Homo sapiens: one gene and its partners. The protein of the gene in region 2 purifies or fractionates together with the protein of the main gene of each other region. This does not show direct contact. Each region holds a gene or a part of one and is shown on either strand. Other genes may lie near its edges.

The links.
Region 1: the proteins of HTR1E (region 2) and ADGRG1 purify together in Homo sapiens (co-immunoprecipitation; one large-scale study listed by IntAct). This does not show direct contact.
Region 3: the proteins of HTR1E (region 2) and CLCN3 purify together in Homo sapiens (co-immunoprecipitation; one large-scale study listed by IntAct). This does not show direct contact.
Region 4: the proteins of HTR1E (region 2) and ALG10B purify together in Homo sapiens (co-immunoprecipitation; one large-scale study listed by IntAct). This does not show direct contact.
Region 5: the proteins of HTR1E (region 2) and LMBRD2 purify together in Homo sapiens (co-immunoprecipitation; one large-scale study listed by IntAct). This does not show direct contact.
Region 6: the proteins of HTR1E (region 2) and HEATR1 purify together in Homo sapiens (co-immunoprecipitation; one large-scale study listed by IntAct). This does not show direct contact.
Region 7: the proteins of HTR1E (region 2) and ATP2B1 purify together in Homo sapiens (co-immunoprecipitation; one large-scale study listed by IntAct). This does not show direct contact.

What each region holds. Positions count from the first base shown.
Region 1 is NC_000016.10:57,634,346-57,638,629, reverse strand, and holds part of ADGRG1 (adhesion G-protein coupled receptor G1 isoform b precursor), read right to left. Parts: intron 1-4,284. UniProt on the Homo sapiens protein: Adhesion G-protein coupled receptor (aGPCR) for steroid hormone 17alpha-hydroxypregnenolone (17-OH), which is involved in cell adhesion and cell-cell interactions.
Region 2 is NC_000006.12:86,935,726-86,940,616, reverse strand, and holds the start of HTR1E (5-hydroxytryptamine receptor 1E), read right to left. Parts: upstream 3,090-4,891; 5' UTR 2,794-3,089; exon of another isoform or gene 2,733-2,793; intron 1-2,732. UniProt on the Homo sapiens protein: G-protein coupled receptor for 5-hydroxytryptamine (serotonin). Also functions as a receptor for various alkaloids and psychoactive substances.
Region 3 is NC_000004.12:169,721,316-169,724,695, reverse strand, and holds the end of CLCN3 (H(+)/Cl(-) exchange transporter 3), read right to left. Parts: 3' UTR 1,023-3,380; downstream 1-1,022.
Region 4 is NC_000012.12:38,326,608-38,330,839, forward strand, and holds the end of ALG10B (dol-P-Glc:Glc(2)Man(9)GlcNAc(2)-PP-Dol alpha-1,2-glucosyltransferase), read left to right. Parts: 3' UTR 1-3,114; downstream 3,115-4,232. UniProt on the Homo sapiens protein: Dol-P-Glc:Glc(2)Man(9)GlcNAc(2)-PP-Dol alpha-1,2-glucosyltransferase that operates in the biosynthetic pathway of dolichol-linked oligosaccharides, the glycan precursors employed in protein asparagine (N)-glycosylation.
Region 5 is NC_000005.10:36,113,303-36,117,586, reverse strand, and holds part of LMBRD2 (G-protein coupled receptor-associated protein LMBRD2), read left to right. Parts: intron 1-993; coding exon 994-1,127; intron 1,128-2,466; coding exon 2,467-2,572; intron 2,573-3,065; coding exon 3,066-3,163; intron 3,164-4,284. UniProt on the Homo sapiens protein: Recruited to ligand-activated beta-2 adrenergic receptor/ADRB2, it negatively regulates the adrenergic receptor signaling pathway. May also regulate other G-protein coupled receptors including type-1 angiotensin II receptor/AGTR1.
Region 6 is NC_000001.11:236,597,854-236,602,137, forward strand, and holds part of HEATR1 (HEAT repeat-containing protein 1), read right to left. Parts: intron 1,772-4,284; coding exon 1,630-1,771; intron 127-1,629; coding exon 25-126; intron 1-24. UniProt on the Homo sapiens protein: Ribosome biogenesis factor; required for recruitment of Myc to nucleoli. Involved in nucleolar processing of pre-18S ribosomal RNA. Required for optimal pre-ribosomal RNA transcription by RNA polymerase I.
Region 7 is NC_000012.12:89,701,891-89,706,174, reverse strand, and holds part of ATP2B1 (plasma membrane calcium-transporting ATPase 1), read left to right. Parts: intron 1-4,284. UniProt on the Homo sapiens protein: Catalyzes the hydrolysis of ATP coupled with the transport of calcium from the cytoplasm to the extracellular space thereby maintaining intracellular calcium homeostasis.

The DNA of each region.
Region 1 (4,284 bases), on a different chromosome or scaffold from region 2:
GTGCATCATATTTCTCTGAAAACTCCTTAGGGTCCACCTCCTCCAGGAAGCCTCCTCAGATTGCCACAGCCTACCAAGAATCCCCCTTCTGAGTTAGCCCTAGGCCTGGAGGTTCCTCCTGGCTTCCTTCTAGAGCTCCCGGGGCGGGGCTGGGAGCTCAGATTCTCTTTTGCCAGTCTGGGGAAGGAGGAAAATAGAGGCAGAGCTTCTGAAACTCCTACTGTGTGCCAGGAACTACACTGGGCATTTTGGAGATCCATTTCTACCACTCTGCAAGGTTAGCCCTAGGGGACCCACCTTACAGATTGGGAAACAGAGACTCGGGGGATGTGACTTGCTGTGAGCCACCTAGCTGGTAAGGGAAGGGTATGGAATTTAAATGGAGATTTTCTCTGGGACATGAAGCTATCAAGACCAGTTGTCCATCTGGCACTTGGCTAATCCCTAACTCTCCCCCACGTTCAATGCTCAGCCAACTTTATTTGAACATCTCCAGTGACAGGGAGCTCGCTCTCTTCCAAGAGGGCACATTCCTTTGATCTCTAAGTTTTTCATACCCACTGAGTCAAAGGGAAAAGGACATAAAAACTGTGGTACGCCCCAGACAGGGCACAGAAAAGAACCAGGGGTTAGAACCCCCACCGAGGTTTTCGGTTCCAGGCCAGCAGATAGGGTGGGGTTGCTCAGGGGTGCAAAAGGTCCTGGGGTCTCAGTCAACCAGCTACAAGCACTTTCTCAGAGCACAAGTGGGGAACCCCACTGGCAATCACATTCTGAGGGGAGTCCAACAGAGGAAGGGGCTTTGGGATGATTTCTGGCAGAGGCCATGGGAAAGGCAGCAGGGGCTTGGGGCTGAGGGGATGGTGTCTCTGCAACTCCCCTTCTCCCCCGCCCCTCCGTGGAGCAGAGCCAGGAGGCAGCTTCAGTCAGGAGGCTGCTATTGTCTCACTGCAGGCCCAGAGCTGGGTCCCATTCAGGCCCTATTTTTGGCCCCCGGAGGAAGAGGAAAAGAAAGCAAAGAAAGGACTTGCTGTTCTCTGGTGAAACCTTCTCCCGGAAAGGCTCACAAGGCTTGCTGGCCGGAGAAGGCGGCCTCTGTTGCATCAAAGGATCCTGTGCTTAAAGGGAGCTGGCAAGGGGCTGTGGTTCAGGGGACCTGGGGGGAGGTACAGACGAGGCACACCACGCCTTTTACATACACTTGGCACTCACTTACAACAGCAACCCGGAGAAACAGAGGCACAGCTTCCCCAGCCCCACCCATAGTCCCTAAACATCCCACTCATAGTAATAATAAAAATAACTGCAATAGCTCATTGCTGCCCAGAGCCAAAAGCCAAAGCACTGTCTTACTTCACACCTACAACATTCCCGACCAGGGTCGGGGCGGGGACTGAAATGATGAAGCTCATTTTGTAAGTCAGAGAACTGAGGCTCAGGGAGCAGCAGGACTGCTGAAATCACAAGCCAGTGACCACAAGCCTACTCCCGTCCCCCAGCCTTACGCCACCCCATCCCTTCCTTGCAGTCGCCAACTCCAGCCACTCTAGACTTCTGTCCTCAGACACACCTCAGGGTCTTTGCGTGCACTTTTCCCTCAGCATAGCACATCCTTTCCAGGACCCTTTCCCTGACTGCCTCCTTCTCAGGCCTCAACTCAAATGTCCCTTCCTCTGAGAAGCCTTCCATGACCACCCAATTAAAATTATCTTCCGTATCCATCACTCGCTTCCATGTGATTTATTACCCGTATTGGCACCCAACATTGACATGACTCTGCCATTTGCTTACCTGTTATCCCTTGCTCAGCTTTGCTGTCTCACCTGTCTTGCTCACCACCTGCATCTCCAGTACCTAGCACAGTGCCTGGTCCATAGAAGATCCCCAGTGACTGCTGGATGAGTAAATGAAGACTGAGACGGAGCTGGGACTCTAACCCAGGGCAGGCAGGCTCCACACCTCTTCCCAAAAGGAGCCATTCCTGATAGATACTAGATAGCCATTCCTGATAGAAGATCTAGAAGATCCAACCCAAAAGTGCCACTCAGGCTATGTGAGGGGTAGGGGATAGGGGATGGAGAGGGTTCAAGCACTGAGCCATCTCCACTCTCCAGCATCTAACAGGATCAGGAGCACACACACCTCTGCCGGCTGCTTGGCCAGAGAACGGTTCCCAAGACTGTGCATAGCCTGATAGGATCTGAAACACAAGGCAAACTCCCCTTTGTTTTCCCGATAAAGGCTCTGAGAAGTCCCACAGCATGGAAGCCTGGGAGCGCATGCCTTTCCTATGCCACTGGGGCCACAGACAGCTTTAATGGCTGCTGGATTAGAAGATGTCTGAGATTCCATCTGAATCTGTGAGCACTGAACCTTGGATTTTCTCTCTACATTAAAGCAAAATTACCACCCCCAAGACCCTCAAAGGCCCACTCCTGTGGTTCGGGCCTAAGGGGAGCCCAGGTAGCAGATGTGCAAAGAAAAGTGGGTCCCGTTCCCATTGCTGCAGACCCCAAGCTCCCACCTGGGCTCCCCATGGGCTCTCCAAGGTCAAGCAAGGAGGAGAAAGGGCACGTGCCTATGGCCATGGGGTCCTGCGATCTAGCAGGCTGGGGGTGGGGTGTGTCCCGAGGACTAGTCTGCAGAGACTCACGAGGCAGAGCTGGGGCAGGGCAGGGAGCCACGTACAAGTGCAAACCATAGGATATGCACTTGGCCTCCCATGCTTCCAGGGCCACTCTATGAGGAGGTACTATCATTCCCATTTTATAGCAGGGACACAGGGACACGGAGCTTGCCCAGGGACACAGAGCTCGTAAAACTGGATCCAAAGGAGCATGGTGCACTCCTTTCCCTGGGCTGCCTCTGTTGTCCTGCATGCCCTGGCAACGACATGGAGAGTCGGCAGCAGCTACTCCATAGAGAGGGAAAGGGAGGCTCAGAGGGGCTGAGCCACAGGGCCCAAAGCCTCACGGCCCAGGGAACAGGGGCGGGGTTGGACCTTGCTCACTCCTGTGCTCACGTGGTTTGCAAACACTACCGTCCTTCCTAGATCGCAATCACTAAAGGTTCTGACTCCAGTTTCCCAAACCCAGGTAGGTAGACAGAGACGGGACCCTGGGGCATGCCACCACCTGCTGCAGGATCTCCATGAAGAGACACTGGCTGTCCTCCCCCACCATGGCTGGCAAGGGTGCTGCACTGGTCCCAGCTCCCACCACCTCCACTTAAGGTGCCAGGAGGCAGGCAGGAGAGGAGCTGGAGGACAGACCGTGTGCACCTGGTCCCCTAGGTGTGCACACAGGTGGCAGAGTCCCCCAGAAGGTGTGGCCAGGACAGCCATGGCATAGGATAAGTACAGCTTTGAGGAAGCTGTGCACGAGGGTTTCTTCCAGCTTTGCCCACTGCCCATGGCTCTAGGCAGGTGGGGGGCAGGGGAAGTGCCATGGGGTCAGGAATGCCCCTATTCAGGTTCAAGCCTGTTGGATAAGGGAGAGCAAGGGGTCCTGAAGATTCAGGAGGTGGGTGTCCTGCCCTCCTGACCTCCCTCAGCCTCTCCCTGTTCACTCCAGTCCTCTTCAGCTGGGTCCCTCTCCCCCTCTGCTCCCTCCCATCCAGCCCACTGAGCTATTTACACATGGACAGGGGTCTCTGAAGATGCATTCATGGCTTTCATGGTGGAGGTTCCTTGGAAGAACCTTGCCAGACAGCCAGGCTATGAAGAGGGTTTCTAGATAGAGGCACCACCTGCCCACAAGCATGGCCTGATGCGGCTAGAAAGACCCATGTGATGCTTAAGGACATAGCGACTCCGGGGAATGTGGGAATTGGGTGCCCATCTCCCCCAAGGCTAGGAAAGCTCAGGGCTGGAAGCAGCCATGAAGAGGAGCCCCATGCGATGCCAAAGTTGCTTCTGCAACGCCCCTGCCACACTTGAACACCTACAAAGGTGGGGAACTCACTACCTATCATGGGAATGGCCATCTGTGGTACTCTGGGGAAAAGTCCAGGCTAAGAGGCAGGAGACTGGGTTCGGGCTCTGCTACCACTGACTGCTCCGAGCTCTTGGGCCTGATTCCTCATCTGTGAAATGTGGATAAAGTTTCAAGTCTTAGAGGGCCAGCAGCACTCAAGATTGAATGAGGGTCTTTGTAGGCAGTGAAGTGTATGCCCCAGGGGCGGAAGTTTGGGCTGTGAGTCGCCCCTGAACTGTTTGGCCCGTGCCCAGATGGTGACACAGCAGAGGAGCAGTGGGCAGAGGGCACAGGGCTGAGCATGACTCAG
Region 2 (4,891 bases):
GAAGATGACACAAAAGTTCAGGGCCTGAGGCTTTCTGCAAAGAGACCTACTTTCTTTTTCTTTCTTTTCTTTTCTTTTTTTGAGACAAGGCCTTGCTCTGTCACCTAGGCTGTAGTGCCGTGGCACAAACTTGGCTCACTGCAACTTTGGCTTTCTGGGCTCAAGCGATCCTCTCACTTCAACCTCCCAAGTAGCTGGGACTACAGGTACACACCACTATACTTGGCTCATTTTAAATTTTTTTGTAGAGATGAGTTCTCATTATTTTGCTCAGGCTGGTCTCGAACTCATGGGCTCATGTGATCCTCCTGCCTTGGCCTCCTAAAGTGTTGGAATTACAGGTGTGACCCATCATGCCTGGCTGAGATCTACTTTTCATTTGCAGCCTTGGTATCTTGGTGGTGGTGGGGGTAGCATATTGAGCCCACCTGGGGAATGGGTGGTGCTTGAGCCAGGTGGGGACAATGTGCTGTGAATGATATACCTTACTTCCCTCTTCAATAATAACCCCATCACGCAGCAGGAAATTGAAATATATTGCAGTGTTACCTGAACTAGAGGTGTGTCCTGGATTTTGTCTCTTCCTAGGCACCACTTCTGAAAAACGCTGACTTCGTTATCTTCCTCAAAAGAATGGAAACTTATTTACATGATTGTTGCTGACCAGGCATCGATAAGAAGAAATGGGGAGCAAATATTTTGTATAGACACCAGAATGGCTAATAAAGGTGACATCACGCTGAGTTGCAAGGTAGGCACCATTCCCTTGGGCAAATGTTGAGAGACATGAGCCATCGTTTCCATGCACTTGGTCTGGGACTAGGCCTTGAATGAAGTCATTATGGCAGAAGAGGAAAGAATGAAAACTTGATTTTACTATGCTTGTGATGCTGATTTCTGTGGAATTTAAAACTTGTTAGCTGGTGGATACACATTGTTAATTTGAATACTCTTCATTATAAAAATAATCTGCTAAGTTTTCATCCCTGGAAATTGTTATGAAAGCGAAAACAAGCACGTAAGGGAATATTTGAACATGCATATACCTAATGACCAGAGTCATGGCTACACTTTAAAAGGCTCCTTTCTAGCTCTGTTACTAGAAGTCTCAATTGAGATCTATAGCAATCCTTGGAGCTTCTGCAGCCCATGTCAGGTGATGATGACACAATAGTTAAGTTCTATCAACAATGATGAATCAGGATTTGAGTGAGTTTCTCTATATAGCTCTCTTAGTGATGAAATACCTCTATGCAGCAAAATAGTTAGTGGTGAGGTGCTATGCAATTTTAGAAATAAGCAACATACTCTGTTTTAAATATGATACAGAAACTGAGCTGAGTCCCACTTAGGAGGTGGGCTTCATCATCACAACTCCGTGGGCTGGAGGCTAAAGCTCTGAAGGGAGGAAAAACAGAGGCAGGCATATTTTGTGCATTTGTTAAATGGGCCTCAAATGCCTCCATTCATTTATTTGTTGAAGACAGGGTCATCTCATTTAATTCAGCAGGAAAGCAACTGTACCAGAAAGAGAAAAGCTGTCTCAATCTTCTCTGTATTTCAAAGGTATTTCACATATGCTCCTCATGAAGGAGACCGCACAGGGAATCAGACCCACGTGCCTGCTTTGCCTCTCTTGCGCAGGATTAAGTAAGGGAAGCCCCTGATTCACAAGTGCATCCTGGCTGTTTAAGGTTATGCATATTGTGTCTGAATGTACAACTATGATAAATATATATTCTGGAGCAATGTTAAATTCAGCTTAGGACGATGTACTGCTTAGAGCTTTGAGGGAAAACATAAGAATGATAAAATGAGCCTAAATTATTTTGGAAAAAACACTGCTCCCCCAACCCATTTGACGATCTATTATTTCCTCCTGGGCTGCTCCCTCCCCAAGAGATTTGGTGCAGGAGGCAAGGAAGGACAATAAGAAAGGTTAGGAAGAAACACCTTGGGATGCTGACACCATCTGCCTTATCCTTCTAACTCAAGGACAAGCAGCGTTGGGTTGAATACAAGGTCCTTTCTTCCAAAACTGGGCACAGGCAGAAATATACATATAGATGCAAAACCACTATGATCCTGTGATAGGAGCTGGAATCACTTCCCTTTAGACTCAATTTCCTTTCCTTTTCGTTAGGTAGGGGGTCAGCCTCTCACCTTGCAGTATTGGGTGGAGATGGCTTAAGACCAAACTTCTCATCTTAACTCTTACTTCCAAGATTTATTTTGTATTTTAAAAAAAATGAGCCTGCCTCATTACCTCCACACCTGGGCATTTTGTTTATCAGGACTGAGCACAGTATTATTTTCTGAGGGCTGGAGCAACAGTGCAGTCCTTTCTAATCAAAGGTTTTTTAATCAGCTGGCTTTGAAATCACACAGTTCTTCCGGGGTCCCTGGAGCACACCACCTCCCTGTGATTTCTACTCAAGTTTTCCCTGGCCCCCCCCAGCACCCGTTCCATACCTATTTAATCTTTAAGCTGCCTCTAATCCTTTTGCAAGGAAGCAGGATGAAATGCTCAAACCACAGTTATACACAATGTTGATTCTCAGGTTCACACATTTGAGGAATTGTTTGAACAAGAAATGCTCTCTGTACTATAATCCAGGGTGCAGGCACGGTGCCCGGGCGACCCTCAGTCTCCCTCCGACACCCCGCATCCCAACTCCCGCCGCCTTTGCGCCTCAAAGCTGGCAAACATCCCCAAGCCAGAGCTGGAGTACCTGGAGTGGGTGGGGGTAAGAAGGGAAGCCAAGGTCGTCCCGGAAGGTGTGCGCCCCTCACCTTGTGGACGGTGCGTGCAGCCGCGCCGCACTGGGCAAACCGGCACGTCCAGCTGGCTCCAGAAGTCTCACTCGGAACCCGCTCCTTTTTCTCCTGAGCTGGATCAGAGCACTGCTTCTCTCAACATTCGATTCTGGAGTACGTTGAGCCCAGGGCGTTCTCCCCGCCAGCGTCCTTGCCCGCGCCAGTGCCCGCCGGGGTGCGGCGAGACAGAACCTGGGAGCGCGGCGCGCCGGGCAGCCCGAGGCACCGCTGGTGGCAGGCGCTGCGCTTCGCCGAGTCTGGGCGCCTGGACTGGAAGAGGAGGCGAGAGGGAGAGAGCGGGGAAGAGGAGGAGGAGGAGCAGGAGCAGGAGCATGGGCAGGGGCAGTCTGCTAAATCATCTACGCAGGTCGCAGCCTCCCGGGACACCGTGAACGGAGAGGGGGGTGGTGGGTGTGGGATGAAAAGATGAGCCCGGGTGTGAGGCAGGTGGTATTGTGAACTGGAGGTCGCAGCTCCGAGGTACTCCAGGTCTTGCTTAGGTTATAAAAGAGAAATTCTGGAGCTGATGGCGCCTTAGGGCTCCCGGTTGCAGACACTAGAGGGCAGGGCTGTCCATGTTATAAACCGGGCCAGCGGGGTTGGAGGTGTGGGCAAGGGACTCACCTCCTGAGCCCCTTGCCGGCCACAGCCCTGGCGGAGAAGGGGAAAATAGATACAACAAGGGGGCAGACCCTACTCCCTTCTTCTGTAGCGAGCCTGGGTTGAGGAGGGAGAGGAACGGCGGGAGCAGTTGACGGGTTTGCACGCTTTCTCTACGCGGTTCCAATGGCAAACAGACCCTCTGGAGGTGCATTTCTTAGCCCTCCTCCAGGGGAGATTACAGTCAACATCCACAGGATGCCTCAAGGAGAGAGATTACAAGGAAGGGGTGAGGGAGAAGTGGACGAAAATTGGGGTGGGTCAAAGTGGAAGGGGGGAAGAGAGGTGGGGAAAGCAGTGAAGAAAAGGAGACGGAGAGTGGAGTGGTTGGGGCTGAAAGACCTGCTGAAGCAGCCTTGCCATTTTTTTTTTTTTTGAGGGAAGTCTACCTGGGCGCCATCTCAGGTTGTCAGAGGGCTTTGTGCTCTTCTGAGGGTGCCAGGGGCTGTTCTTTTTGTTGTTCTGCTGCCGCAAGGTCAGAAAAGTTAAGCTGGGAGGGACTTTGCAGAATCCTGGCATTGCTAAAAGAAGCTTCCTTACGGCTGGTTGGTTATTCTCTGTGGAGAACTTGGGTGACTCAACATTGAAGCCTAACATGGATTGAGCCCCTGCCATTGTAAAAAAGAAAATCAGATTGTTCAAACTAGCCATAAAATGAACTAGACAATCTTATGGAGACAGTATGATCTGTAGACAGCCTGATACACAAACCTTAGAGTTGAAAGGACCTTGGAAACCATGTAGGCAACTTGGGTAGCTGCCCCAAACACCTGCCTCACACTTTTCTTTCTGGTTTGTAGCCTTATGGCTGATTTGAAAAACACTTTAAGTTATTTATTTATTTTTTGAAGTTTGACAATTCTAAACCAAATGAAACCCTTCTTCAGTTCAAAAAGCGAGCCTGTGTGCCCTTCTCCTGCCTTCTAGAGCGCCTCTCAAGGCCAGCAGGGGTTGACTGATGGATTATCAGGGGAATTTCACTGAACAAGAGAAAGGAAGGTTGGTAAACTATAGTCTTAAATTGTGATTTGCTTCTGTTAATCCCATTAAACTGAGAATAGGCTTAAGTAGACTGAAGTCTAACAGGAGGATGAGGTGGAAATATGTTTTCCTACTAAAGATGACACATCTTGAAGTTTGTTTGATGATAAAGGTGTTATGTAAAAATAAGCAGAACAAGAATCATTCCTCATTTTAAAAAAGAATCTTATAGGACTGAAGATATTTTAGATATCCCAAGAGAGTAAGTAAGGACATTGTTCTACTCTTGCAAGTTTGGAGTTCCTCCAAAATATAAAGGAAATATGAGTTTGTTAAATTGCTTTATTTAAAATTGATTTACCTATTTTTTGGTTATTACAACATAAGGAACTATGGAAACAAATATTATACACTTGGAAACTTTCCTGAACAT
Region 3 (3,380 bases), on a different chromosome or scaffold from region 2:
GGATGATGCCGCCCCTGTGTAGCTCTCAGGCTGGGCCTTTCTCCTGAACTCGAGTCTGATACATGCTAATGCCTATGTGACACCCCCACTTGGAAGTCTAAAAGACATTTAAAACAATGTCTAAAACCAAAATTCCTCTGCACACAGCACCCCACCCCCAATCTATTCTTAAGTCTTTCCCAACTCAGCCAGTGGCCATTCCATTGTTCTGTCATTACTCAGCCAAAAACTTTGCAGGCATCCTTGACTCCTCACTTACCACACTACATCCAACCCATTCACAAGTCCTGTCCATTCTACCTTCAGCATGTCTCGAATCCAACTGCTTTCACCACCTCCACCAGCTTCAATCAGGTTCAGATCTCTACCACATCTCACCTGAATTATTCCAAGAGCCTTCTAGCTGGTAGCCTGCTTCCACCCCTGCCCCCTTATAGTCTATTCCCAACAAAGGAGTCTGAGAGATATTTTAGGTCACATTATGTGACTTTTCTGCCTCACTGGCTTCTCATTTAGAATAAAAATCAAATGCCTACACCCCCAACCTCTTTCCTTACCACTTTCTTCCCTCTTATCCCTCTCCAGCCACAGTGATCTACTCAGTGTTCCTTGAACCTGGCAGGAGAATCCTTTGTATATAGCATTTTCTCTTCTTACAACATTTTTTCTCACGGATAAATGTCCTTCTCTAACTTTCTGTAGGTTTCTGCTCAAATGCTTCCTTATCCCTGAGGCTTTCCCTGATCACCCTCTATAAAAATGGGGTGGGTGCACACACCTTCACTTTTTGTACATTACAAAAACTATAACAGGATTCTTGACTGATTTTGTATATTCGTAACAGTGTGCAGTACATAAAAATCCTTTTTTAAAATTGCTGAACTAATCCATATTTATCACCATCTGACATACTCTAGATTTCTCTTCCTGCTGGAATGAAAACTTCAAGAACATAGAATAGCGCCTGGCGCCCAGTAATTGCTCAGTAAATACTCAGTGAATATAAATGATCTACTCTGAACTTTTAGTGTGTTCCTTTTTACTAAAAGCTTAATAGTAAAAGACCACATCTTAATCAAAGGTTGTTACTTACCACCCTCTTTTGGCAGTTCTATTAGCAAATGTCCAAGGTGATTTTTTAAAGACATGTAAATAAATCGTTTTACCTCTTTTCATGCAAATAGCGTAATTTTTCTTGCGAAAAAAAAAAAAATCACTTTTGAAAGTGAGCTGAAATGAAATCAGTTTTCTGTGGACCTGCAGCTTTCACTGACAAATGGGGGCGCTAAACCATTGCTGGTGGTATGAACATCCTGCTGTCAATCCAGCATCTATCTACTCTTCTATTGCTCCTTGCTTGCAAAGTGTAGAAATGCTTTGTAACCTGAGAGAAGCATTATAATTATTACCTTTTTGGGGCTCCCTGTGCCAGGCATATCGGCCTACACTGCGTAGGGCAGCAGTGAAGAGGGAGGACTGTTACAGATATAATTAAAGGCCAAACCACACATTGTCATATAGATTTTAATAGATTTTCTGATTAACTCATCACAGTAGTCGTTTTTACTGTAATGATATGCAGCTTTACTACACTAGTATAAATAAAAACAGATAAATACAGCTCTAGGCAACATTACAGATTAACTAAGCATTCTTCGTGAACCAAAACTGAAAACAATTAATTATTAAGAAGAAGAGATGCTGACACCCTTGCCCATTCTCATCATACCTTCTCAAAAAGGGTATTCAAACAAGGCGCTACACTTATTATATTGGTAAATTAATTTGCCAATTAGCCAGGCACAACAATTTCATGGTCTCCACTATTTCATTATTTTGGTTGAAAAGGAGACACACTTCAATGTATGAAAAAGAAAAATGGAACAGATAACACCAAAGAAAACCACTAAATGCATTAAAAATACGGCACTTTTCCTGTATTTTAGCAGTAAGATAGAAATACTAGGGATAGAAATATACCAAAAAACAAAATTAATGCTTTAATTAATATCCACCCTGAAATGTCAGTCTCTGAAGCAAGATGGGCAATTAAAGGAGGAGCAGAAATAAAAAAGGGAAATATGATAAAATAAACTCCATGTGAAGTTTTACGAAGCTATCTGCAAAGAAACCGATTTGTCCTTTGAAGGCTATTAACTCAGGACAATTAAGTTATCCAGCAGCCATGCTGAGGAGTTCATAGTCTAGCAATACGTTGCACACAGGCAAATACACTTAAGACGAGTTGGAGATATACAGAACTATCATTTAGAAATGATTTTACTCTGGATGGCTCAAAAAACTTTGAAAGGGCTATGAAGAAAACTTGAAGTCTGTCAAAGGAGAGAAGTAATAAGGAATAATTTTAGGCAGATAGCACAGCTAAGAATGTTTCCCAAAATCCCGAAAATTTTGCTCAACTTTCAATCCTCATTCTTATATGGCTTCATGATCTTATGTCTTCAGGATCTTACAGATCTTAATAGGTATACTATAATTAAGAACTAGGAAGTGAAGAATCACTTTCAAAATGTAAAAACAGCTCATTGCCAGTTGTGTTTCAGAAAATGTCTGTCTGGGCCAGGCGCAGTGGCCCACGCCTGTAATTCCACCACTTTGGGAGGCTCACGCAGGCAGATTGCTTGAGCTGAGGAGTTGAGACCAGCCTGGGCAGCATGGCAAAACCCCATCTCTACTAAAAATACAAAAAAATTAGCTGGGCATGGTGGCGTGTGCCCGTAGTGCCAGCTACTTGGGTGGCTGAGGCGGGAGTATCACTTGAGCCCAGGTGGTCAACGCTGCAGTGAGCCAAGACCATGCCCCACTGCACTCCAGCCAAAAAAAAAGAAAATGTCTGTTTGCAAAAATTTCATTTTCCTATCAAAAATGCATAATTACAGAATATTTAGCCCAGTCCTTTGAGTAAACTGCCTTTGCCAATTGTGAATTAAGGCTGTGATTAAAACAGACAATTCCAAAAACAAAAATCCCAAATATAATCCAGTGCATTTTCACTCATCCTGCAAAAAATGTTCAAACCATCACTGACCACTTCAAATATGGACGTAACCTAGCCCGAGATTCAAAGGTTATTTTCAGATTAAAATTTTAACTGCTATCTTTGCAATTCTATTGTTTTCACATTTTTGGTTTGATTTTTTTTTTAAGAAGGTATACACGAACTTTCGGTTTTATTCTCCAAAGTAATGTAGTTTTTCAACTTTCCAGTTAATGTAGTTTTTCAACTTTCCAGTTAATGGGTCAAAATGGACAGGTCAGAAGACATAATCCAGAGGATGGCAGTGAAAGATCAGAGAAAGGTTTATGTGCACACTGGATCACAGAGAGAGAACCACAACCTTTTTTTAAACCTTTGTTCC
Region 4 (4,232 bases), on a different chromosome or scaffold from region 2:
TAAAGGTAAAAGACATTTCAACTAATTACAAATACTTTGTTTTTTTTAGTTGGGCTACATTTTACCACTCTAGGAATAGCTGTTAATTATTTTTTATATAGGGCATTTTTATGTATTTAATGTTGACAACTGACGTTTCCAATATACAAAAACTTGTGTAACTGAGAAAATTATAATAAAAATAGAGATTGAGGACATATTTTTAACATATATCCATGAGTCAACACTAATATTTAATATTTGAGATTTGAAAAATTATTTCTAGGGTAAGAAATTCTGTCACAATATAATATCTCTATATTGTGCTTTTTTAAGAGATAAATTTTTGATGAATTTAATGTTAATTAAATTTTATCTCAGCCTATCACCATCAGACCAAAAGACAATACAGTATTTTTCTAACAAGGAAAAGAAAATACATATATATATATTTATATATACAAATATATACGTATTTATATATACAAATTTGTATATATGTAATGTATGTGTGTGTGTATACATATAATTTCTCCTTTTTTTTTTTTGTAAGAATTGAGACAGGGTGTCACTATGTTGTGTGGGCTGGTCTCAAAACACCTGCCTCAAGTGATCCTCCCACCTTGGCCTCCCAAAGTGCTAGGATTTACAATGAGCCACTGTGCCAGCTTCCAACAAGAAAAATATTAAATGTATTGGTTTTTCACAGTGAAACTTAATTCAGTTTAGTTGAACCATATATGTGTGTGTATGGCATATATAAGATGAAAAAAGGAGAAAAAGTAACAATAATAATGATGGTTGCCATCATTCATTGAACACCTATAATGTTTTAGGCATTATACTAGCTGATTTACAAATATTGTCTCATTTGATGCTACATTTATATTTCTATGAGGCAGATGTTGATTTCTCTTTGACTGCTGAAGAAACTGAAGGTCGGTCAGGTCAGGTGATTTGCCCAAAGTCCACACTGTCACTAAATGAACATAGATTGGTATGACTCCCAAGCCTGTGAGTTTTTGACCGTCATATTCTGCCTCACTATGAAAAGTTTTTTTTCAATTTTTTTTAAATCAAAAGAAGTAGTATATGGAGAGAGAGGTGAAAATCCATGTTTGCTCTCTGCAGTTTCCAAACCATTCATGACGTGTTATTTTTGTACTGGATATAGTCATTTTTTAAAATGCTACAAACTGTTCAAAAGAGCATGAACAACATGATAACTCCTTATAATTTTGTTGTAAGATAAATGACTAAAATTATGTGGGATATTTAATTTGGATAAGTGGAAATTCTATCACTTGATAAGCTCTCTTGAAGAATAATTATTTGAAAGATTGGACTTAATTCTGTATTGCCTGAAGTGTAAATCAGAGGTCAACAATTAGATTGCAAATCATGAAAAGCATAACTTCTAATTGTTTAGTCTTTTTAGGGAAACAAGCCCAGAAAAAAAGTAAGATTCTCATTCATTGGAGATAAGATTTCTATTTATCAAAGATACTACACAAGAGTTAGATAGCAAGTAGTTCAAATGTCTTTTAAAGGTATCTGACATCTTTAAAGCTCTGTAATTTTTAAATTCTAAATTTTGTTACAGCTAATTTTTAAAAATTAATTGCTAAGTCATGGTCAAGTATTTCTGATGACTTACATGCTGTCTTTGGTATATTTTAAGTTTCTAAACCAAAACTACTATTTGACTCTATTACACCCTGTTTTAGAAAAACATTTGAGTTATACAACTTACTAAAATGTATTTTAGCGGTGATGTTTTGGAGCACTGGTAATATAGTGTTTAACTTATTTTCTATTTTTTATCCCTCTATATTCGTGAAATTACTTCTATTTGAAAAGTTTTCCGCCAGTGATAAAAAAAGGCTGAGCACTATCTGTAAAAATTTTTAAGGTGTCCACTAGGTGGAGATATTGTGCTACATTTCCAAGTGTTGTAGTTAAACTTTTATTAGTCTGAATTAAACTCTTTTATAGTGTTTTATTGTTTTAAACCACAAAGATTTATAATCATTTATATCTATTTATCTAATGTTATTCAAATGTTTTCTGCGTTGTATGAAGCTAAGATAAATGTAAAAAAAACAAACAAAAAAAACCTCACTTTGTGTTTTGTAATCATTAGACGATTTAACCTAATATATCTTCCCATATGATATGATCTTTGCATATGGCATACTTCATTCATATGACATAGTTAGAATCTTTTCCCACAAACAATGAGTGATGATATCTCATTTGAAAACTCGTGTAACATTGTATCAGCCACTGTTATAAAGTGATTTACCCATGTTAGTCTCATAACAACTCTATGAGATCAGTACCGTACACATGGGGAAACTTAGTATAGAGAGGTGAAGTATTTTTTCCAAGATTACAAAATAACTGTCTGAGCTGGGATTCGTAACCAGGCAGCCTGACTCCAAAATCAATATTCTTAACTCTATTGTTATGATGGAGAAAGGCATGAAGTCTACCTTCAAATTCATGGCATTTTAGAAGGAAAAATTGTCGCAAGTAATGTGATTATACTTCCTAGTTTTATAGGTCAGAAAAATGAGGTCCACACTAATTTTGCCTCTTCCACAGGGAGATAGATTCTCATCTACCATTGTGTCTTTTGTTTCTGTTTTTGTCATGATACCTCAAATTGATATATGTTGTAATTATGAATTTAAGGAAGTAAAAAAATAACTCAGGGCTGGAGCCTTCAGCCATATTAACATACATTGACATAAAGACCTTTGTTTTAATATGAATGATTCCAGTTAACAAATGGAGAAATAGTTGTTTGAAAATTAATATTTAGCTTCTCAAAAGAGACTCCTGTTTGGAAGCAAATTGTTGGTTTAACAGGACATACTTTAGATATTTGAAAAATTCTCTGTGGAATCACAATCTCTTATTTTTAAGAATGTAGGAATATGTGTTCTATATGCTTTTAAGTTATGTATTACATACTATTCTCTAAAATAGAAATGTTTATTTGGCTTCTAAAAGTCATTTGTGAGTTGATGTTATTTAAAACTGCTTTTCAGTCAACTTATTCTTTATAAAAAAGTTTGTTCAAATAGCATGTTTTTATTTTGTTTCTAAATAAATTCATGTTTGATAATATTTTATAATGTGTTGTGTCTATTTTTTTTTTTTTTTTATTGATCATTCTTGGGTGTTTCTCGCAGAGGGGGATTTGGCAGGGTCATAGGACAATAGTGGAGGGAAGGTCAGCAGATAAACAAGTGAACACAGGTCTCTGGTTTTCCTAGGCAGAGGACCCTGGGGCCTTCCGCAGTGTTTGTGTCCTTGGGTACTTGAGATTAGGGAGTGGTGATGAGTCTTAAGGAGCATGCTGCCTTCAAGCATCTGTTTAACAAAGCACATCTTGCACCGCCCTTAATCCATTTAACCCTGAGTGGACACAGCACATGTTTCAGAGAGCACCGGGTTGGGGGTAAGGTCATAGATCAACAGCATCCCAAGGCAGAAGAATTTTTCTTAGTACAGAACAAAATGGAGTCCCCTATGTCTACTTCTTTCTACACAGACACAGCAACAATCTGATTTCTCTATCTTTTCCCCACATTTCCCCCTTTTCTATTCGACAAAACCGCCATCGTCATCATGGCCCGTTCTCAATGAGCTGTTGGGTACACCTCCCAGACTGGGTGGCGGCCGGGCAGAGGGGCTCCTCACTTCCCAGAAGGGGTGGCCGGGCAGAGGCACCCCCCCACCTCCCAGACGGGGCGGCTGGCCGGGCGGGGGCTGCCCCCCACCTCCCTCCCGGACGGGGTGGCTGGCCGGCTGGGGGCTGACCCCCCACCTCCCTCCCGGACGGGGCGGCTGGCCGGGCAGGGGCTGACCCCCCCCACCTCCCGGATGGGGTGGCTGCTGGGCGGAGATGCTCCTCACTTCCCGGACGGGGCGGCTGCCGAGCGGAGGGGCTCCTCAGTTCTCAAAGGGGGCGGCTGCCGGGTGGAGGGGCTCCTCTCAGACGGGGCAGCCGGCCAGAGACGCTCCTCACCTCCCAGACGGGGTCGCGCTGGGCAGAGGCGCTCCTCACTTCCCAGACGGGGCGGCGGGGAAGAGGCGCTCCCCACATCTCAGACAATGGGCGGCCGGGCAGATATGCTCCTCACTTCCTAGACGGGATGGTGGCCGGGAAGAGGCGCTCCTCACTTCCCAGACTGGGCAGCCGGGCAGAGGGGCTCCTCACATCCCAGACGATGGGTGGCCAG
Region 5 (4,284 bases), on a different chromosome or scaffold from region 2:
TTTTACCCACACTATAGAAATTAATAACTGTATTTGAGGAGAGATGAAAAGTTGCAAGATAGTGCAGAAATCTGAGATTTTTTTTTTCTTTCTGTTTTTTTTGGAGGCAGAATCTTGCTCTGTCACCCAGGCTGGAGTGTGGTGGCATGAACATGGCTCACTGCAGCCTCAACTTCCCGGGCTCAAGAAATCCTCTCACCTTCACCTTAGCCTCCCAAGTAGCTGGGCCTACAGCCATGCACCACCATCCCCTGCTAATTTTTGTATTTTTTGTAGAGTCAGGATTTTGCCATGTTGCCCAGGCTGGTCTGGAACTCTTGCACTCAAGTGATCGTCCTGCTTCAGGAGGATCCATCACACTTGGCCCTGGGAATACTTTGATTATATTTATGCCAGTAAAGCTACATAACTTATAGGCCTCATGTGAAGAGTTGCCAAGGGAATGGGAAAACAGGCTCACATTAGAAGGTAGATTCGAAACTTTTGGATCTAGGATGTTAAACAGTTTGAAGTGTTGGGTTTTTTTCATAATCTTAGTGGGTGATTAAAAAATTCTCTATTACTGTATTTCAATTTTAGAGCATCAATAAATGTTAGCTAGAAATGAAGGCCAGGCTGGGCGTGGTGGCTCACACCTGTAATCCCAGCTCTTTGGGAGGCGAAGGCGAATGGATCATGAGATCAGGAGTTTGAGACCAGCCTGGCAAACATGGTGAAACCCCATCTTACTAAAAATACAAAAATTAGCCGGGCGTGGTGGCACATGCCTGTAATCCCAGCTACTCAGTTGGCTGAGGCAGGAGAATCACTTGAACCCAGGAGGTGGAGGTTGCAGTGAGCCAAGATCGCGCCACTGCACTCCAGCCTGGGTGACAGGGCGAGACTCCATCTCAAAAAAACAAAAGAAAAAGAAATGAAGGATAATGCCTGTAATTGTTAAGTGCTAAAGTCTGTTTGTTTTAAACAAACTGCTTTGTTTTTGTTTTTTTCCAGATTGCCTGCTTCCTTTCCATCTTCTTCCTAAGTATCTGTGTTTATTCTACTGTGTTCAGGATTCGTGTATTTAACTATTATTATTTGGCCTCACATCACCAGACTGATGCTTATAGCCTTCTTTTCAGTGGCATGTAAGTAGGATTATGTTTAGAAACAAGAGAAATGTCATCATTGAGTGTATTCTTATGGATCTTTTATTTTTTGTTGTTTACAGGTGTTCCACTAACATCTATATTTCTATCAGCTAATTGATTAGTTTCAAATATTAAATTGATGTTTGTTGATTGCCAGCTACTTCCTGCTTGAGGTTTAAGGTTAAAATAGGTGTGCTAGGTTAGGCTAGAAGGCAGAAGAAGCATACTTAGTGAGCCCGGATTTACCAACCAGAGATTAGCAAGCAGTAGAAACAATGGACAGTTTAGAGACTAAGTCAGACCTAGATGGTGTTCTAAGATTCAGCGGTCTCTCACTGAGTTGAGGAGGACTGAGAAAACCAACAAGAACAATTTTTCCTGAGGAATTCAGAGAGGATTTAGAGAGATGTCTTCAAGTTGGGCAAGATTGTACAATCTATTACCTGTTCTTATTGTTAAATGAGTCCTATTAGGTATTTATAAAGGATGAACTTAGATAATTTTATAGAGGAGTTGACATCCAAAGTATTTTTAAGCATCTTTTTTGTTGTTTTCCAAATAATTATGGACTCATGGGAAGTTGCAAATGTAGCACAAAAAGTCCTATGTAACCTTCACGCTACCCCCAGTGATATCAAAACCAGGAAATGAGAGTAAAACATTACTATTAACTACAAACTACAGACTTTATTTAGTTCTCACCATTTTTTATCCTTCATTCGTGTGTGTGTGTGTGTGTGTAGATTCCTGTAGCCACCAACACAATCAGGATTCAGAACAGTTCTATCACCACAAAAGAATTATCTCATATTATTTTTTTTTAATTCATACCCACACTTTATTCTCCCCAGCCCCAATTATCCAAGTGTGTGGGTTTGTAAGGCATTCTTTTTATTTGGACAGAATTGAACAACTTTATATCTGTGCTTGTCAGAATGACATATGTTGATACAACTTCAGTTCTTTTATGTACTGAATACAATTCACCTTGAGGATGTTACTGTCCTTGTCATGCTGTGAGATGGATTTTACGGATGGCTTAGTTGTAGGAGATGATACAAAGGCACTCCACAACTTGTGGGGATAAAGCAATGGCAGAAACCATAAAAGCAAGGAGCTTGAGGCTGTAGTCACGTAGGCATTGATGTGGCAATTTTCAGAATATCTCCCAAGTAAGTGAGGGCAGGTCACATTAAGAATTCAATATATATATAAAGCAAATAGATGAAAATTTTAGCTATAATTATCTGAAATGTTTTTAATACATCTCAGTATACTATAAAATGTATTTTGCTGCTTTACTTTTTATATACATATTTTTAAATGTTTGTTGCAGGCTATTTTGCCGTTTGACACCTCCTTTATGTCTTAATTTCTTGGGTTTGACCCATATGGATTCATCTATCTCTCACAAGAATACTCAACCAACTGCTTATACATCTGTAAGTACGGTCAGAAAATAGAATTCCTTAGGTTCACTATCTATATGAGGTGCTGTTATTGTGAAATTTCTTTTAATGCCAGCAGAAAAGTTCTATAGTGTTATTGGTAAAATTTTCTCTTAAAGATTGTATACGTATTACTATTGACTAGATAAAAGTGATTTTCCTTCTTTTATGATAAAAATGTTTTTTTTGGTTCATATATGTTGTCTAGCTGACCAGTATCAAAAGAACTGACCTATACTAATATTAACTTTATATTTGTAGTCAATGTATGTGATAATTTTGAGTAATAATTATATTAATTTTCTTTAAGAGAAAACCTCAATAAAAAGCAGATTTTAAAAAATAAGTCCATTTACTGCTTTTTTTCTACTTTTTAAAAAGTTCAAATGGATTGATATAACTGGTTATAGGCAAATTTTCTAATGATGGAAAGGAATGGAAATTATAGAGCTATTCCAATTTAACTTACTTTTTTCTTGCTCTTCAGATTATGGGTTCCATGAAAGTTTTATCCTTTATTGCAGATGGATTCTATATATATTATCCTATGTTGGTGGTAATTCTCTGCATTGCTACTTATTTTAGGTAAGAAACTTAACATTGTTTTTTCTTTTGCTCTTAAATCTGGATATCCTTTCTCTTTAAAGCTCTTTTAAATATTTACTGATTGAGTTTCAGTTTGTTTCATTGTAGCTTTGGAGAAGCTGGGGATAGTTTGAAGGGACTACTTGAGTGATCAGGTGCGAGTCTCCCTCTAAAAAATTTAAAGAAAAAAGAGGTAGAGTTATTATTCTATTATAATAAATAATACTATTTTAACATTATTCTATTTAGGCTAAAAAATGATAGGATTAATTACAGAATGTTAACTCTAAGTCCTGGCCTTTGACACTGACAGCTATCGTAGCCTGCAAAACACCCTTATGTCCAGCTTTTTTCTAATGACATAAATTAGCCTTAGAGCTTTCCAATAATTATTGCTGGGTGTCTAAATGCTTCAGACCATGGCCAGCACAAAGGGTCAGGTGAGGACCGATTGTAATCAAGCTGTACATTAAGATTAGAGGAGAAATTTTCTCCTGTGTCATAAAGTACATGGCATGCTGTTTTCATGGAATTAGAATGAATGGTAGAATCTAGGCAGGAGTGAGATTCAAAAGGGATTAAAGGATAGGTGTACTTGGCTTCTCGCATCTGTCTTTCCTTCTTTTTACATGTCAGGCCTCCTCATCCTGTACTCTGCCCTCTTTCATTGCTGAAGTGCTCCATAACATACCCAAAATACCACTTTTTCAAAAATACTTAAAAATGTTCATTGCTTACTCTTCTGAGAAAAATAAATTTTATCTACCCACTTTATTTAAATCTTCCAATACCATTTTATAGTTGTTACAGATAATATCTACTAACATTACAGTAATGAGTAAACAGATATTGTTTAAAATACATTTTCTATTGAATTTTTGAAAATATATTTTACTTTCTTATAAGTAAAATAACTAAAAGATTATAACTTCAAATTGTAGCAGGATGAGCCGCAGACAAGAACCCCTCAGACACCGAGTTGTAGAAGGAAAGGGCTTTATTCAGCTGGGAGCATCAGCGGACTCACATGTCCAAAAACCGAGATCCCCGAGTGAGCAATTCCTGTCCCTTTTAAGGGCTTACAACTCTAAGGGGGTCCTCGTGAGAGGGTCTTGATAGAT
Region 6 (4,284 bases), on a different chromosome or scaffold from region 2:
ATACTCATGAAACAGACTGCTCACCTTCACAGATTTTGTCACCAAACTGCAAATGAAATCCATGAATCCAAGATCTTTGTAGCAGTGGGTAATCAAAGTTCCTTTAGCTAACGGCACTCCAGATTGCTGTTATTGATGGAAAGAACAAACTACTAGCAACATTCATCAACTGATCCTTATTTTAAAGCATTTACCCTAGTAATGTCTTCATACTGCTACAATTCATAAATAAAAAATATAATCTCTCCTTATAACTGGTGGTGGTGATGAAATTAACACATAAAATCATGTAAACTTAGAAATTCAAAAGAGAAGGTCAGCAATGAGGGCAGAGGTATTTAGTGAAAGATGTTTGCTTATCGTATGTCACATTTTGAAAGGTATTTATCAAAATCTGGATTCTCTAGATTCTTAGTAACTTTACTGGTTCGATTTGGTTTCTGAGCCACTATGATACGCTTCTGTCATTGCTTTACAATAACACTAAGAACAGAAATAGACTAGGAAACTGCACAACTTATACCACTATTCCCACCATCTAGCGTTGTACATGGTATGTAATAGATGCTCCATAAATACTGATTAAATAAATGAAAGGAGAATTTTAAGTGAACTTTAGTAGGTGAGTGGAGTTTGGCTACCTGCAATAAGAGTGCCTAGGGAGCAGCAAGATCCAAGGTAGATTAGAGGAAGAATAATTTTGATGCTATGGGCAGAGTGAATGTTGGGAAGAGCAGTTAATGAGCTTTATCAAAGGCTGGCCTTCTCCAACATTCTTTAGTTCAAGTGCTTTACGTTCAGATTCTTAAATTCTCCTTCTAATTAAAAAGTCCTCATTACTCCTATCTTACTAATTCTGAACACTGACCCCACTACCATCATCAGCCTAATGTGCACAGCCTCGTGATCTGTTAGCTTACCTTCATCCCCATTTGCCTCCCCCCCTACCCTGGATCACCATGCCCAACATGCAGTCAAGTTCCTGCTAACAACATACATCTACTTTCCTCCACCATATGTTGCAAACAAAGTGCTAACGGTTAGTCAGTTGGTTTTCCTACAATAGCATGCTGTCTTTTCTTACCCAGACCCTTCCTGTTATACAAGCATCCTTTTCTTAGTCTGTAAATTAACTCCTAGCATCTTCCTCACAACTTTAGTAAATTCTTGAAACCCCTGAAGTTATCCTTATCCTTTTAATTTTTGTAAGTATTTTCTGCCTTTCTTCACCTTCAACTTTTTTTTAAGTTCTCAGTTCCAAATTTAAAATGCCAAACGGCATGGTACGATACAAAGGCACAGACTCTGGAATCAGATTTGGGTTCAAATCTCAACTCTGCCACTTTATAGTTATGTGAACTTTGGCAAGTAGCCTGTCCTCATCTGTAAAAATGAAGTTTTGTGATAATCCAAGATAATATAATGTACATTGCCTAGCCTGATGTCAGATACTAAATAAAAGCTAAATATTATTAACATTAATAATAGTTTCAATTGGAAGTCAGGAAATAAAAATGATGGAGGTAGTTATCTGGACTATCCCCAGGAGCAATGACTTATTTTTTCCTAATTAAATCCCTTAATCAAGATCTGTAATGATTACAGACATATGTCATTCAGCAATTATACCTTAACTGGCAACAACCAGAACCATCTGTGCTTTGAATTATTAATTTTTAGAAGCTGTATGACTCGCACAAATATTCTTGTCTCGTGGTATGGCAGAACACAAGCAATGAGGCTATCTTGATTATAGAGATGTATATGGAACCTGGGGAAAAAAAGCAAACAGTCCAACTGAACACAAAACTTAATAATAAGCACCTATTTCCTCACATGCCCAAACTGTATTATTAATAAGCTAAAACAACCTAGAACGAGTAGCAGTAAAAATCACAAAATTATAAGATACAGAGCATTTAAAAAGTCCCCAATTTTGCATTCACATATCCCTCAACATGGTCCAGCCAATTCCTATGCAATATCTTTGAATATTCTACATCAAAATATACATCCCATTAACTTTCTCTCAGCTTTACAATTTTTATTTAATTTTTTGAATAGAGTCTTGCTCTGCCACTCAGGCTGGAGTGCAGTGGCACGATCACGGGTCACTGCAGCCTCAACCTCCCAGGCTCAAATGATCCTCCCACCTAGGTCTCCTGAGTAGCTGGGACCACAGGGGAGCACCATCACAGCTGGCTAATTTTTTATTTCTGTGTAGAGACTAGGTCTCCCTGTGTTGCCCAGGCTGGTCTGTCAACATTTTTTTTTTTTTTTTTTTTTTTTTTTTTGAGAGGGAGTCTTGCTGTTGCCCAGGCTGGAGTGCAGTGGCACAATCTCGGCTCACTGCAACCTCCACCTCCAAGTTTAAAAGATTCTCCTGCCTCCGCCTCCCAAGTAGCTGGGACTACAAACTCATACCACCATGCCCAGCTAATTTTTTTTTTTTACTTTAGTAGAGATGGGGTTTCACCATGTTGCCCAGGCTGGTCTCCAACTCCTGAGCTCAGGCAATCTACCTGCCTCAGCCTCCCAAAGTGCTAGGACTACAGGTGTGAGCCACCATGCCTGGCTAAGATGTTTTTTCTAATTCTGCCAACTGATCCCTCTTCTGTGAAAACTCTCCTATCCTTTTACATCGTGTACTTTTTTTAAACAGTACCATACATTGCCTTTTATTAGATTTTTTTTTTTTTCCAGAGTCTACTTGGTCACCCAGGCTGGAGTGCAGTGGTGTGATCTCAGCTCACTGCAACCTTCGCCTCCCAAGTTCAAGCGATTCTCATGCCCTAGCCTCCCAAGTAGCTGGAATTACAGGTGCACAGCACCACACCCAGCTAATTTTTTTTTGTATTTCTAGTAGAGACAGGGATTCACCATGTTGGTCAGGCTCGTCTCAAACTCCTGATCTCAAGTGACTGGCCTGCCTCAGCCTCTCAAAGTGCTGGGATTACAGGCGTGAGCCACTGAACCCAGCCTCTTAGTTTGACATACGGTTTTAGCGGTTACTTTTTCCATGAAGCTTTCTTCAACTATTCCAGGCAGAACTATATCCACAAAACTCTGCTTAATCCTTTATTATGGCATTTATTTCAAAACAGTAATCAACGGCAACCTACTTATCTATGTACTGAACTTAGTATTTGCTGAATAAATAAGTTATCTGAAGACATAAAATGAAAAATCAAATGCAAAAAGTATTCCTTACATTAATGATCTATTTGGGGGTAAAGTTAGGTGCTAGAAAACAGATGGAAATATTACAGACTTTTAAATATTCTTTGTCTGATTGCCCTAATGTTCTGACAATCAGAAGACCCAAGTTAAAATCATGTTTTCTTGATGACTCACTTGCTTCTTGAAAAAAAATTAGTTTATCCCCACGTCTCCATTTTTTGTTTTTTTTTTTTGATACGGCGTCTCCCTGTTACCCAGGCTGGAGTGCAGTGGCGTGATCTCAGCTCACTGCAAAATCTGTCTCCTGGATTCAAGCAATTCTCCTGCCTCAGCCTCCCAAGTAGCTAGAATTACAAGTGCTCGCCACTGCGCCCAGCTAATTTTTGTATTTTTCACACAGACAGGTTTTACCATGCTGGCCAGGCTGGCCTTGAAGCCATGTCTCCAATTAATGGAATAGAAATCTACTTTTAAAACATGTAAGTTGGACTGGATGTGGTGGCTCATGCCTGTAACCCCAGCACTTTGGGAGGCCGACTCGGCAGGAGGATCGCTTGAGGCCAGGAGTTCCAGACCAGCCTGGGCAACAAAGTGAGACACTGTCTCTACAAAAAATGGAAAAACAAAAACAAAAACAAACAAACAAAAAAAAAACTAGGTGGGCATGGTGGTGCATGCCTGTAATCCCAGCTACTTGGGTGGCTGAGATCGGAGGATCATTTGAGCCCTGGAGATCGAGTGGGCCACGATCACACCACTGCACTCCAGCCTGGGTGAGTGAAATCCTGACACTCAATAAAATAAAAATAAAAAGACAGCCGTGTGCAGTGGCTGTGGTGGCTCACACCAGCACTTTGGGAGGCTAAGACGAGTGGATCACGAGGTCAGGAGTTTGAGACCAGCCTGGCCAACGTGATGAAACCCCATCTTTACTAAAAAAAAAAAAATACAAAAAATTAACTGGGCGTAGTGGTATGTGCCTGTAATCCCAGCTACTTGGGAGGCTGAGGCAGGAGAATTGCTTGAACCTGGGAGGTGGAGGTTGCAGTGAGATGAGATCGTGCCACTGCACTCCAGCCTGGGCGACAGTGCGAGACTGTCTCA
Region 7 (4,284 bases), on a different chromosome or scaffold from region 2:
CATGGCTCCTCTCAGGTGCATCTCATGTAAAAATAAATGGAGATTTTAATACTTAGAAAAGAGTTACTGTAGTGACAGTTGAGATTTCTTTCCCTTCCCTTCCTTCCCAAATCATAAGTATAAGGAACACTGTCTCTTTAGGCACAGCCTCCTTTTTTGATGTAACATGAGAAAAGGGATTTAGCTCCCAAGTAATGAATTAAGATGTGGATATTATTACATATAGTCTTACTTACAAACCGCAAAATATTACTGCCCTTCTATCTGCATTTAAGGTTTCATTCAACACTTGCAATTTCTCTATAGACAATGTAAAGCATTGGCTATTGAGCTGTAGATAAGTCTTTATTAAACTAAAATTAGCCAAAAACTCTGAGATGAAAGGTGTTTTATCCCCTTACTGCTATGTGTTCTCTGTCGAACTATGGAATATGGCCCCGGGATAAAGGACATTATTTGAGCTATTAGATTGTTGCATGTAGAGTAATTATATGTTGTTATATATACTTTCATAGATTCCTTGATTTCAGAGTAAGATTTACTAATTTCCTTTGACTGACAGACATGTTAACTTCATTTCAGATGCAACAGTCTCTTACCATGGGAAATGAGTTTTAAAAGGAACGGCCACTTATAACTATTGGTCTTCTGTAATATTGAACAAAATAATATTTGGTTTTTTTCCCTTACATTTTACACATGAATACAGTAAAATTGATGTTTTCACTTTTTTATTCTGGAATTTTGTAATGGATGAGCAAAAAACAATAAAAGGACTGAGGATCAGAAAGCAGAAACAAACATTTAGGTTTTTGCATCTCGGGCAAGAGTATTGACCAGATGGAAGGGAATAATTATTTTCTAGTAGCTGTCATGATATGTAATAAAGGTACTAATAGTAGCTTATTTGGGACTAGGTGGAATCTGAGGTGACATTGCCAGGAAAATAACATACAATGGTTATGGGAATAATTTTCATAAAGATAAATAACTTTAAAAAATTCACTTTTTAGCTTTTAGAAATGTTATCTATACATACCACATATATTGTTGTCTTGTTAAAATTTTTTATTATAGAAATTATCAAACATAGGAAAGTAGAGAGAATGATATACTTACTGGCCAGTTTTGACAATTACCAACTCTCGTGGTCCATCACATTTCATTTATATCTTAACACAAGAAATGGTTCTGTTATAAATGGGGACATAGGACAGGTAATCGAATCGAATTTTTGTATTTGTATTTTTCAGAATACGGTATACTCAATAGTGTCCAATATCTAATTAAATCTGAATGGTCAGTTTTTATGTTCTTCGTTGATTCTTTAGTGGCATATACATTTTAATTTTTCTGGTGGTAGTTTGTGTATTTTACAGCAGGTGCCCAAAGATAGTGTCTCTCAAATTTTGCTGTCTTCAGAAATCACAGGTATTATTATTAACTACTTTACAGTTTTCAGAATGTATTTACATATGACCTCATTTGATTCTCACAATAATCCTGTGTGGTGAGTAAGGCAGACAATTGTACTTTTTTTTGTTTTTTGTTTTTTGTTTTTTTTCTGGTAGGCAAAGTGATTTGTCTAGGCCCTAAGGTCATATAGCTAGCAGCTTTTTTAGCCCAAACTGGACTTTAGGTGGCTTCTAGATTTTGCTCATTGCTCTTCTCATTATACACGTTTATGTAAGTTTATGAAAGTTATGTATGGAAAATCAGTTTTGATCAGAGTAAATTTAATAGAGAAATATGAATGGGTTTGTTTGGGTTGAGCTTTATAAATTTAATCATTACTTATATTTGGTGTAATACAAACAGTTTGTGTTTTGATTTACTTAACAGCTGAGTGAATGTGAACGTATCTGAAATACTATATTTTTAATATTGTGGATTTTTTTAAGTTAGGAATTTTGATTTCAAAGAACTGTTGGCCTAGGGGTGTCTTAAATCTTGAATAAAAATAAAATGTGCTGTACTAAAAGTTTCTTCTTTAAATTTCTGCTGTAACTTTTTATGCACTTGTTTTTATACTATAACATGTTTATTACCTAAATCTCTTTGAAATATTCATTTGTTCTGTAATGAAATTTAGTTTAAAAGGTTCCAAATGAGGAGGTTTTAGTTCCTGAAATCCAAAACCTGGTTATAAATCTCACAAGAAAGGTGTGGTTCTCCAGCATTAATGTGCATGAAGAATCACCTGGGGGAGTTACTGAAAGTGCAGATTCCTTGGCATTGCCCCTGGAATTTTGATTCAGCAGATTTGAGGTGGGGCCAAATGCTACAGTAGTCTGCATTTTGAGAAACATTGACATTGCATTTATAACTAAGTTAAAGTTACATGGTAGAGATACCTAAATCAGTAGCAAAGTTTGATTTGTTGATGTCGATGGTTTTTGTGACAATCCTAGAACTGATAAATTGAAAATATTTCTGTTATCTATGTATGCCCAGTCTTTCAGAAGATCCATCTGTGGTTACTTAAGTTACTTATTAAGCACTGTAAACTATTAGAGAATGTTCTTTTATTTTCATGTCTTAATGTCTGCCATTTTCAAATGACTTAGACACCAGAGTTTATATTCATAAAAATAATGCATGCTGTATCCTTACAGTAGTGTGTGTTTATCCTTTAGTCTAGCTCTTTGTTAGAAGAAAAGATCGGATATTCCTTCAGACTAAAAGGACATAAGTTAGTGGATAGATAGCTCTCTTTAATTTTAGTTAACAAGCAGTTGCTCTTTCAAAAACAGCAAGTAGATCTTCCAAGAATATTAGTGATAGCATACTAATTGATAATTTACTATTTTATGCATTAAAACAGAAGTTACTGCTGTCTCACTTAAATGTTAAATAACCGTTTGTGTAGTTCACCAATCTACTCTGACTTTTGGAACTATTTTATCTAATACCATATCCACGTGAATTACCTGCCTTTAATAATTTTCCTCTTTAAGACCAGTTTTGAAATGCAGTTGTTTTTTGCTTCATTTATAACAGTATAGCAAATAGCCTGTATCTGCATTTAAAATATATTTTATAATAAAATTAATTTCAAAGCAGGTTCATCTCAAGACTGTTGGGAACCTGTTTTTGTTTGTTCCAAAACTTAGTCTTGTTGGCTACACCTTAAGGTTTATTTAGGAATCATAGCTTGTAATTTACTAAAGCTTATGGTAATCTAAATTAATAAATATTTTTGGCAGAGAGGTCCAAATAAACTGTGGGCACATTTTTTTTTGCCATATTTTTAAAAGCTATTTTCTATTAAATTTTTCCTAGGACAGTGTCAGCTATTCCAAATCGTATGTGGTGTTTTTAGTTATAAGAATATTTGGTATTTCTAAGTACAGTGACTTCCAACAATATGGTTTCTTAAAATATGGGATACCTGCTTTTGTAGTAATACTACTGTCACCTGGGCCTCTGAGGGAACAAATAAAGGTAGTGTTGAATGGACCAATGCTTGCTTACACTGTGAAATCTGAGATTACACTGCCTAACTGTAAACTGGCATGACTACTGTACAGACCTGATAAATTTAGGAGTCAAATTTATGTTTTCTGAAAAAAATAGGTCTTAAAGAAGATTTGACTGTTTAACTTGAAAGATGCTTTTTAAATACTTTTTTATTAACAATGTGGATCTATTATTCATTGTATTAACCCTGTGAGTGAGTTCTCTCTCAGGAGGATTTTAAATAATAATCTTGTACTCTCAAAACTCTCAGATCTGCTGCTTTAATCTACCTTTCATATTTGTGCCAGAATTTTCTTTTGTTTTTCAATAACCTATTTTAAACCACAGTTTCTTCACTAAAACTTTCATCTTTTTTTTATTTTTCTCTTTATCAAAATACAACTTGACTCTGAAGGCCTTTTATAAAGTAGCTCAGTGTTTTCTAAATTGTGTTTTAGAATGCTGGTTCCAAAAAATATTAATAGGGATTTCCTGGGGGAAAGAGGCACAACCAAACTCCAGGATATGCTGGTTTATGCAGTTTGGAACTTCTCTGGTACTTCAAGGTGCTAATAAGGGCTGAATCTAAATGTGGCTAGTGTTTTGTCCTCTCATTTCACAAAACTCCCTTTAGTGGAACATCTCACCTTGTTAACTTTGTGTACCAGGATCACTGCTTTGCACAACTCCAGGGGATGCTGTTCACATACAACACAAAATGAATTGTGTTTCCTGGAGTTGAGAGCTGTGTTGCATACTGTAGTATTGCTGACTGTCCACTGTGTGACGGTCTTAGAGTCTGGTGGTCCCTCATCCTTTTGTTGT